3 linked regions of the Homo sapiens genome follow. The protein of the gene in region 1 interacts with the protein of each later gene in a pairwise test. Each region holds a gene or a part of one and is shown in the gene's direction. Other genes may lie near its edges.

The links.
Region 2: the proteins of PEBP1 (region 1) and STK38 interact in binary tests that used the Homo sapiens proteins (3 or more experiments, as listed by UniProt).
Region 3: the proteins of PEBP1 (region 1) and TNFRSF19 interact in binary tests that used the Homo sapiens proteins (3 or more experiments, as listed by UniProt).

Annotation. Positions count from the first base shown.
Region 1 is NC_000012.12:118,133,729-118,137,553, forward strand, and holds the start of PEBP1 (phosphatidylethanolamine-binding protein 1), read left to right. Parts: upstream 1-2,395; 5' UTR 2,396-2,481; coding exon 2,482-2,616; intron 2,617-3,825.
Region 2 is NC_000006.12:36,545,834-36,549,433, reverse strand, and holds the start of STK38 (serine/threonine-protein kinase 38), read left to right. Parts: upstream 1-1,954; 5' UTR 1,955-2,244; intron 2,245-3,600. UniProt on the Homo sapiens protein: Serine/threonine-protein kinase that acts as a negative regulator of MAP3K1/2 signaling. Converts MAP3K2 from its phosphorylated form to its non-phosphorylated form and inhibits autophosphorylation of MAP3K2.
Region 3 is NC_000013.11:23,671,359-23,675,183, forward strand, and holds part of TNFRSF19 (tumor necrosis factor receptor superfamily member 19 isoform 2 precursor), read left to right. Parts: intron 1-2,013; coding exon 2,014-2,022; coding exon of another isoform or gene 2,023-2,161; 3' UTR 2,162-3,825. UniProt on the Homo sapiens protein: Can mediate activation of JNK and NF-kappa-B. May promote caspase-independent cell death.

The DNA of each region.
Region 1 (3,825 bases):
GAAGTTCATTTCAGTGATATTTGTAAAAGGAAAACAATGAACAAAACAGAGTACATCAAGAGGCTTGTTGAATAAATGATGGTGCATCTAGAGAAGTCATTAAAATGTTGAAGACTTTTTTTATTTTGCTTTATTTTTGTAGAGATAGGGTCTCACTCTGTCGCCCAGGCTGGAGTGCAGTGGCACAATCACGGCTCACTGCAGCCTCAAACTCCCAGGCTCAAGTGATCCTCCTGCCTCAGCCTTGGTAGTAGCTGTGACTACCGGCACATCCCTCCATACCGGGCTAATTTTTGTATTTTGTTGTAGAGATGGGGTTTCACCATGTTGTCCCGGCTGGTCTCAAACTCCTGGACTCAAGTGATCCTCCTGCCTCAGCCTCCCAAAGTGCTAGGATTAGAGGCCTCAGCAACCGCACCTGGCCTGACGACCTATTTTTGATATGACTATTTTATAATGGTAGGATATAATGCAATCTTTTGGTGAATAAACAACAAAATCATCTATACTCATATTATTTTTAAATAGGAAAGATATACCCTAAATGATTACTGACGTTTATAACAAAGTAGTGGGATAGAAGGGGATTTCTACTTCTTTGGGTTTTTTTCTTTGATTTTCTACAATGAACTCGTATTATTTCCTAGTAAGAATGTAAATCAAGAGACAACTTTTTATTCCATGGGAGGAATTATCAATGTCAAGAGTCAAAACAGATAAGAACTGTTAAATAGTGCTTATTGGCTGGGCGCGGTGGCTTATTGCCTGTAATCCCAGCAGTTTGGGAGGCTGAGGCAGGCGAATCATGAGGTCAGGAGTTCGAGACCAGCCTGGCCAACATGGTGAAACTCTGTCTCTACTAAAAATACAAAAATTAGCTGGGCGCGGTGCCGCCTGCCTGTAATCCCAGCTACTCGGGAGGCTGAGACAGGAGAATTGCTTGAACCCGGGAGGCAGAGGTTGCAGTGAGCTGAGATCACGCCACTGCACTCCAGCCTGGGCGACAGAGCAAGACTCCGTCTCAAAAAAAAAAAAAAAAAATAGTGCTTATCATATTCAGCAAAAAGCAAGCAGCTTGTGGTCACAGTAAGAGCAGTTTTGGTATGAATAAATATGGTTTAAAATTGTTTTTCAAAAAACAAACATAAAAAACCAAAACCCAAACATTTCTCAGGAATTTTGTGAGGACGAATTTTGTGTGTGGAGAAAACGGACAAATACATTTCCCCATATATTTAAATGCTCAAAAGTTCACTCAGGTGCTCTCACCAGGCAATTACTATGACAAGTGATCACGTGCGAAAATACAGAGAATCTGGCTCGTTTTAAAGTGCAGGAGAAAAGCAAGGCCTTACTGTTTCTGAATTTGCTGTGTGTGTGTGTGTGTGTGTGTGTGTGTGTGTGTGTGTGTATGAGAAGATGGGATCTGGCTCTGAAGCGCAGACAGGAGTGCAGTGGCAAGATCGTAGCTCACCGCGGCCTCAAACTCCTAGATTCAAGAAGTGATCGGCCGGGCGTGGTGGTTCACGCCTGTAATCCCAGCACTTTGAGAGGCCGAGGTCAGGAGATCAAGATCATCGTGGCTAACACGGTGAAATCCCGTCTCTACTAAAAATACAAAAAATTAGCCGGGCGTGGTGGCGGGCGCCTGTAGTCACAGCTACTCGGGAGGCTGAAGCAGGAGAATGGCGTGAACCCGGGAGGCGCAGCTTGCAGTGAGCCGAGATCACGCCACTGCACTCCAGCCTGGTCAACACAGAGAGACTCCGTCTCAAAAAAAAAAAAAAAAAAAAGTGATCCTCCCGCCCCAGCCTCCGGAGTAGCTAGGACTACAAGCATGCACCACTGTGTCTGGCTTTTTTCTTTTTTTCTTTTTTTTTAAGTTTTCTGTAAAGACGGGGTCTTGCTACCTTGTCCAGGATGGTCTCAAACTCCTGGGCTCAAGCGATCTTCCTGCTTTGGCCTCCCAAAGTGCTGGGAATACAGGCATGAGCCACCGCGACAGGCCATGTTGCTGAATTTGGAAAGTGGAGCAAAGAATCATGCAAAAAATTAAGAAAACCAAAACGCAACCAAGGCGAATTCAATTGCATTTTTTTTTCCCAGCGACACTTTCTGAGACACGAACCTCTCTCTTCGGCGAACCTATTCCAGGGCGCCCTTCATTTTCATTTCTTGAAACAACAGCCTTGCAGGCCGAGCCGCTGTTCCCGAGAACTCGGCAGCCACAGGGAGCAGGTTGCATGGACCCAGGAGCGCGAGAGGCCCTGCTCTGCCAGCTTCGGCCAATCAGAGGCCAGGGAGCGGTGGGCGTGACGTGGGGCGGTGCGCGGGGCTGGGCGGCGGCTGAGGCGCGTGCTCTCGCGTGGTCGCTGGGTCTGCGTCTTCCCGAGCCAGTGTGCTGAGCTCTCCGCGTCGCCTCTGTCGCCCGCGCCTGGCCTACCGCGGCACTCCCGGCTGCACGCTCTGCTTGGCCTCGCCATGCCGGTGGACCTCAGCAAGTGGTCCGGGCCCTTGAGCCTGCAAGAAGTGGACGAGCAGCCGCAGCACCCGCTGCATGTCACCTACGCCGGGGCGGCGGTGGACGAGCTGGGCAAAGTGCTGACGCCCACCCAGGTACACCGGGCGGCGGGCGTGCAGCGAGCGGCACGGCGCGGAGGCCTGTGCCGGCCTCCTGGGTGGGACCCAGCGGAGACAGGGCCAGGGGCGGTGGGGAGGTTCAGCCTGCGTGTGTCGAGGCCCCCCCAGGCCAGAGGTCCCGGGGTCCATGTCCCATGCCTGGGGGCCACCCCGAGCACCGGGAACCCGGCCTGTGGCGTGGCCAGGCAGGTTCGGCCTGCGGCAGAAATTCATTCACTTTTCCCGGGCTTCAGACCCAAGAGGGACCTAGGTTCGGAAACAGGCCGGATCCCCCTCTCCCCCCACAGGCCAGGGCGCTGGAGAGGGACGTCGCCGGGACAGAGTAGGCTGTGGCTGCCCGGACGCCCCCAGAGCTTCCCCTAGGGCCTCAGCATTTTAGGCCTGGTTTTGGAGGGCTGAAGCCTCACCCGAGAGCCTGTGACGCATTATGTAACTGGCGATGAGCGCGCCGGCCGATTTCTCCTTTGTTAAATGGGTCGAGAGCGTCCAGCCGGTACGCTGGAGGGCAACGGTTTAGTTTTGGTCTTTGACCTCCCACGCCCACGGCTGGGGCTGCCGAAAGTGAAGAAACTAGATTTGCAGACGCCACTGCTAGTTGGTTATGAAGCTCCGGGCAACAGCGTAAAATAAACTGCCCCGACCTTACATTGTTTTGGATGTTCACAGAATTTAATTTTTTTGGATGTTTAAATATGTAGTGCCCATCTAACACAGCCTCCCTTTTCCTGCTCCCTGCCCGCCTCTCATCACCTTGGCTTTCTCCTTTTCTTTGCACTTTGAAACGTACAGTTAATGCAGATTTCACTTCAGCAGGCTCCAGGTAACCTCCTGATCACCAAATCCAGAAACGCTGTGATTCCGGACAGACAATGTAAGGGTGTCGTTGAGAGGGGACTCAGTGCCAGGGTTGGAATCCCAGCCTTATCTGTTTCTCTTAATAGTGTGCTGGGATACTAGCCCCATGGTGTTGTTGGGACTGAAATAATATACAGCCTGGGCAACATAGCAAGACCCCAACTCTACAAAAAAAAATTGGCCAGGTGTGATGGTGTGAGCATGTAGTTCCCAGCTGCTCAGGAGGCTGAGGTGGGAGGATCGATCGATTGAGCGCTGGAGGTTGAGGCTACAGTGAGCCTTGATAGCGTCACTACACTCCGGCCTGAGTGACAGAAGGAGACCTGGTCT
Region 2 (3,600 bases), on another chromosome or scaffold:
GCAAGACTCCGTCTCAAAAAAAAAAAAGAAGAAGGAGAAGGAGAAGGAGAAGGAGAAGAAGAAGAAGAAGAAGAAGAAGAAGAAGAAGAAGAAGAAGAAGAAGAGGAAGAAGAAGAAGAAGAAAAGATTAGCTGGGCATGGTGGCACGTGCCTGTAGTCCTGTAGTCCCAGCTACTAAGGAGGCTGAGGCAGGAGAATCACTTGAGCCTGGGAGGTGGAGGTTGCAGTGAGCCGAGATCGTGCCACTACACTCCAGCCTAGTGATAGAGCGACACTCCGTCTCAAAACAAAACAAAAACAACCCCCCTCCCCCCACCAAAAAAAACATATATATAAGAGAGAAGAGAGAGTGAAATTCCTCTTCTGAAACTGGGAAAGTTCCAGGAGGAAGATAAGGTTTGAGCTGGGCTTTGGAAGGAGGAAAGAGAAGAGGAGAAAGAACATTGGATTTGCAGACAGAAAATGGGGTTCCCCTCTTGGCTACTTGGCTTACTAGCCGTGGGAATTCAGACAAGTCACTTAGCTTCTCTAAGTATCAATTACTTCATCTGCAAAACCTCGTGTGTCACTGCCAAAGTGAGGACCAAGTGAGATTAAATAAGTGAAAGTTGTTTGTAAACTGTAAAGCATTATGCAGACATCTTGGACTATTATTAAAAGCTTAAGAATGGGTAGGACTTTGACAACAGGCATTTGGGGAGAAGGGCCTCTGGGCAGAGAGAATGAAAGGCGAAGTGATTGATTGATATGTATGTAGTGACTGATTGAGACAGGGTCTCCCTCCGTTGCCCAGGCTGGGGTGCAGTGTCATGATCATGGCTCATAGCAGCCCTGAACTCCTGGACTCAATCAATCCTCCTGCTTCAGCCTCCACAGTAGGTGGGACCACAGGCACTTGCCACCATGCTGGCCAATTACAAAAATTTTTTTAGAGGTGGATTCTCCTTATGTTGCCCAGACTGGTCTCAAACTCCTAGGCTCAAGCTATCCTCCCACCTGGACCTCCCAAAGTGCTGGAATTACAGGCAGGAGCCACCGCGCCTGGCGAGAAGTGATTTTTGTTAAGAGGCTAGACAAAAGGAAACTGGGCTTTGAAGATGAAATGAATGAATAACTCGCAGCACATGCTTCCTTCTCTCCCTAGATGGCCCCTTTGCAGGCAGTCAGGGACCATGTCTCGTTCATCTTAGTTTCCAGGAGCTTGACACTTTGTAGTTGAGGGCTTTGTGCTCCATTCTCAAGAAACGACAAGTGCCCAAAGGCTATTAAACTTGGGACCTCTTTACCCCCAAAAGTAGTACAGAATAAGAGTTGGGTGGCCTTGAAAAGCACCTTCTTCTGTCCACACTGGGTCGCCCGCTGGGTAACCTCCCAAACCTATGAGAGCTCACCTTATCCCAGGTAAGGTCCTTACTTTAAGGAAGAGGAGGGGGGCCAAGGGCTCCAGCAGACCTGTTCTACACGGGGTAGGGGGGTGGGTGGGAACTATACAGGTGACAACATTTCATAGAACTACACACACACTCACACACACGCACATGACTGCATACCCAACAGGTTAAATCCGAGTGTGGTCTGTAATGAAGTTAATTGTATTGGTTTAGTTAATTGTATTGGTTTAGTTAATTGTATTGTGCGAATGTCAATTTCCTGGCTTTGAGAATGTTGTATCTTAAGAAAAATGTTGAGGTAAGCTGGGTGGGTGATGGTATAGGGAACCTGTATGTATTAATTTTGCAACTTCTTGTGAGTCCATAATTATTTCGAAGTAAAAAGTAAAACAAAAGAAAACAATGGAACTTCCCCCTCAGCCCAGCCTACTTCGAGACCGCCTCACACTCACACATCTGGCCTCACCCAGGTCCAGCCAGCCCTAGGCAGGGGGTGAAGGGAGGGGCAGGGCGGGGCCACGCAAGCGCAGTTCCGCAATCCCGGCCGCTCCGGGAAGTCGCGCATGCGTAGTCTCGGCCCCGGGCTGCCGCGCCAGCCCGTCTCCGCGGCGGGGGACCGGGCTGCCTTGGCCCCTCAGCGCTCGCGTCTTTTCCGGCAGTTGGAACGCTTCCTGTTGTCCTCACCCGTAACCGCCTGTTGCCCCCTGTCTCAGAGTCCCTCACGCGTCCCCTCCCGTCTTTGGCTCGTTGGCTGCCGCCGCCGGGGCTTCGCCAGCCTTCAAGTCGAGACTACTGGCCGAAGGGGCGTCTGCGGCTCTCCGCCGTCCCCAGCCCTGCCTCTCCCTGGGCTCTGGTGAGTTGCTTGCTGCCGCCGTCTTCACTCCATCCCGGGGTTTTTCCTTTATCTCCTCCTTCCCCAACCTCCGACTCCTTCTTGGGCTTTCTCCTGCTCGCCGGCGCCCTCTTTCAAGCCCTAACCTCTCAGCCTCTTGGCCTCTCTCCGCCCCTCTCCTTAACCCCCTTCTTCCCCCGTCTCCAGATGCCCCTTGTTGGCCCTCTCCACATTTTTCCAGTCCCAGCCTTTCCACCCCATCCTTTATCTTTCTCCTTTTGCAGTTGGAGCGGGAGCCAGGCTTTCCTTTCCATGTTGCCACCTTTGTCTGCTCCCTGCCACCAGTCAGTCCCTCAGGGATCTCGGTCATCACCGGTTTTTATCTCCTTTTCCTTCTTCTGGGGTCTGTGAACTGTGGTCTGAGGCAGAGATGTCGAAAGCCCCCCTTGGGGTGTGGTATCTTTGAGTCGGCTCCTTTCTCCGTTAGTCTTAGGATACTGGGCTTCAGATAAGCTTCAAATCACAGGAAAAGGCAGGGAAAATTCTTAAGAAGAGAGTGGAAAAGCAACAGCCAGAGGAAAAAGTCGGTAAGGGCTTAGAGGAAAGTCTGTGTCAGAAAGCGGGCAGAACGGCCGGCAGAGAGACCAGATCTCTCAGTTCATTCTGAAACGACTAAAAGACTCGGAGAGAAACTTGTTCTGTTTGAAATGCACCGAGGAGGGTTGGAGTGAAGTAGACCCTGAGTGTCTCCACCCTTTGAGCTCACCCTGCCTCTGAATTAGCCAGGCAATATATTTGGTTTCCCTAAACATAAAACAACCACCACCTCGATAACAGGCTCTCCTCCCCACCCTAAACGTTAGATACCAGCTTCCTCCTAAGAGGAGAGAACGCTATAGCAAACCATTTCATGTCCCAGCCCTATCCCCCATCACACATAAACTCCTAGGAATGGACATCAAAAATGAGTATATTTCCTAGTTAATCTTTCTTAAGGTGCTAAGTGCATAGCACTGTGCATGAAATGGGGGAAGAATATTAAAACAAGTATAAGACATGGTGCTTGCTTTCTAGTGTAGGTAGAGATTACAGTTTAGTAGGATTTACAGTTCAGTGGGAGAGATTAGACATGCGACTTAAGCAATAATCTTAGCTCCAATGTTGAATCGTCCAAATGAAAGATAATGGATTGTCAGTCGCAAAGAAATAAAGTCCATATTGTTGAGAGAGGGTTGTTTATAGTGATCACAGAGTACCATTGTAAAGTCAGTCAGTTAGCCAGGCATAACCATATAGATTGAATCACATAATGGTTTTCATTTGACTTCCTTTTGAGTTTGCAGGCCTTACACCTGACTTTTATGAGGATCAGTTCCT
Region 3 (3,825 bases), on another chromosome or scaffold:
TATAATTGTTAGATTAATTTAGGTAAATCTAAGTATGACATTGAATTTAAAAAAGGAAGCGTTAAAATATAAACCATTTTGATTTTTCCCCTATAATAGTGAATAATATTTTGAGCCCATTTTACGAGATAATCATTTCCAGATGCTGGAAAAAAAAAAAACTTTAGTTGCACTTACTAATCTGTGAAATGTAGCAAATGAACCTTAAGCTACTTCAGGCCTTTGGGGGCCTGGTCCTCCTCTTTATTTCAAGGTCCAACCAAGTGTTTAACTCAAGTAGTTTTGCTTCTGTTTTTCTTTCCCAATCTAAATTCCAACCCACATTTCCCCCAACAGGCTAATTTTCCAACTAGAGGACACATTCACATCTCATAAAGAATTTGATTTTAGGCTGAGGCAGGAAGATGACTTGAGCCCAGGAGTTTGAGGCTTGAGGCTGCAGTGAGCTAGGATCACGCCGCTGCACTCCAGCCTGGGCAACAAAGCAAGACCCTGTCTCTTAAAAAATAAAATAAAATAATTTGATTTCAGCAGCTCACTATTATGAACCAAAGCACAGGGCTTCTTGTTAATTTTATCCATTCCACAGGTTTGTGTTCAATTAGCTTGGCTCCATGATGTGGGCTCGTTCATAGCTCAGGAAAACAACATGTGTCCATCTGGGAGGTGGAAAAGGAGCAGCTGTGGCCAAACAGCACTTCTGTCTTTACGTGGTGTAAGGCCATGATTTCAGCGCATGATGCATTTGTTTACACAACCTGCATTTCCACACACTAGTTTTCTTGTGGGTGATTTAAGATGACCCATAATCTGATGATAGTTATGGTTCCAGATAAAGCAAATAGGTGTGAGAGCCTTCTTTAGTTTGTATGACTCAATTTTAATCAAGTTTTTCCTATACACATCTCTCCAGAAGGGAACAAAACTGAGATATTTGGAACATTTTTTGCTGAGATATTTGAGAGAACAAAGCCAGCCTGTTTACCTACAGGAAAAGCATATCTTGAAGTTGTTTTTAATGCAACATTTAAAATGTCAACAGGAACAGACAGAAAGAAGGTTAGAAAACATATGAGAGGACCCTGGGTTCTAGTGTTTCAATCTATTGAAATGTCTACTTTTTCCTTATTGGCAAAATGAGGATAATTTGCCTCCCACAGAAGGGTTCATGTAGTTATTATAATCATGTCAGTTAATCAACATATTTGATAAAACTATCTCCTGTTATTGGAAGTGTTTCATAAGATTTTACTTCTAAATAATCTCCTTAGACCTAGGAATAATTTTTTTGCATACACTTAACCTGGTATGTCACCAATGCCAAATTAGTGGTAAGTTAGTGAAGGGTTAATACATGAAATTAATGTTCAGTGGTTTCACTTGTCCCCTTCCCGGCATTGACGTCAGTGCCCTTTGTGATGAGGACACGTCTAATGGCTACACTTTGCTGAGGATATTCTCCCGATAAGGACTGTGAGTATGCTAGGGAGATTGTTATAAGAGAAATCTTATTCCCAACTATTTCTGAACATTCTCTAATAGTTTAATGGAAGTACATTCAAAGACTAAGTTGGCAGATAAAGAATGGTACTATTCATTCATCTTTGTTCTTTGAAAGAAAGGAAATACAGAATCCTAAAATATTTACCTACAAATGCTTTAAAGGAACACAGTATAGAAGAAAGAAGCTTTAAATGTTTGAATAAGGTTGAAAGCCCACAAAAGAATTGTTGTTAATACATTATGATTGCTATGGGTTACGGTATCATCTTTTAAGTACTCTGCAGTTATTGGGTGACTACGAATTGTTATGAAAATATTTATTTTATCCTGAGATTACATGGGTAGCTGGATATTTGGATACTATTGAATGAGTTTCTTGTCCATATGCTATTATTATATCCATGTATACTACTAGTAAAAGTTATGCATAATAATTCTTTACCATTGAAATTTAGCAGATTTAACTTGTAAGACATTATTTCTAAAGCTTCCTTTCTGTTGCTGTTTTAGGAAGCTTAAAGAACCTGCTTCTTTCTGCAGTAGAAGCGTGTGCTGGAACCCAAAGAGTACTCCTTTGTTAGGCTTATGGACTGAGCAGTCTGGACCTTGCATGGCTTCTGGGGCAAAAATAAATCTGAACCAAACTGACGGCATTTGAAGCCTTTCAGCCAGTTGCTTCTGAGCCAGACCAGCTGTAAGCTGAAACCTCAATGAATAACAAGAAAAGACTCCAGGCCGACTCATGATACTCTGCATCTTTCCTACATGAGAAGCTTCTCTGCCACAAAAGTGACTTCAAAGACGGATGGGTTGAGCTGGCAGCCTATGAGATTGTGGACATATAACAAGAAACAGAAATGCCCTCATGCTTATTTTCATGGTGATTGTGGTTTTACAAGACTGAAGACCCAGAGTATACTTTTTCTTTCCAGAAATAATTTCATACCGCCTATGAAATATCAGATAAATTACCTTAGCTTTTATGTAGAATGGGTTCAAAAGTGAGTGTTTCTATTTGAGAAGGACACTTTTTCATCATCTAAACTGATTCGCATAGGTGGTTAGAATGGCCCTCATATTGCCTGCCTAAATCTTGGGTTTATTAGATGAAGTTTACTGAATCAGAGGAATCAGACAGAGGAGGATAGCTCTTTCCAGAATCCACACTTCTGACCTCAGCCTCGGTCTCATGAACACCCGCTGATCTCAGGAGAACACCTGGGCTAGGGAATGTGGTCGAGAAAGGGCAGCCCATTGCCCAGAATTAACACATATTGTAGAGACTTGTATGCAAAGGTTGGCATATTTATATGAAAATTAGTTGCTATAGAAACATTTGTTGCATCTGTCCCTCTGCCTGAGCTTAGAAGGTTATAGAAAAAGGGTATTTATAAACATAAATGACCTTTTACTTGCATTGTATCTTATACTAAAGGCTTTAGAAATTACAACATATCAGGTTCCCCTACTACTGAAGTAGCCTTCCGTGAGAACACACCACATGTTAGGACTAGAAGAAAATGCACAATTTGTAGGGGTTTGGATGAAGCAGCTGTAACTGCCCTAGTGTAGTTTGACCAGGACATTGTCGTGCTCCTTCCAATTGTGTAAGATTAGTTAGCACATCATCTCCTACTTTAGCCATCCGGTGTTGGATTTAAGAGGACGGTGCTTCTTTCTATTAAAGTGCTCCATCCCCTACCATCTACACATTAGCATTGTCTCTAGAGCTAAGACAGAAATTAACCCCGTTCAGTCACAAAGCAGGGAATGGTTCATTTACTCTTAATCTTTATGCCCTGGAGAAGACCTACTTGAACAGGGCATATTTTTTAGACTTCTGAACATCAGTATGTTCGAGGGTACTATGATATTTTGGTTTGGAATTGCCCTGCCCAAGTCACTGTCTTTTAACTTTTAAACTGAATATTAAAATGTATCTGTCTTTCCTAGTATGTTTTTATCTTCTCATGTATTATCCATGGTTTTCTCTGTTTGTGACAGATTAGTAAAATTTAATGAGCCCTCTTTCTTGTGGCCGTTTCTCCATAGTTTTAGGTTTTGATATGTGTTTACTAGCTTGCCTGTGTCTGGTACATCTCATGACCTCAATTCCCTCACCTGAAATAGGAAATGAGAATGTTTCATTGTAGCCCCAAGCGGTCATGTCAACCTAGTGCCTAGTCATAATTAATTGACTTTTCCTGTATTACTTCTTTTTTTAAGTATAAACCAATGATCCTTTGGTAGTCAAGAACTCTTAGGAACATTGCCTTTTGGACATGTAAAATATTTAGGATTTGACCACACAATGGCTATGAA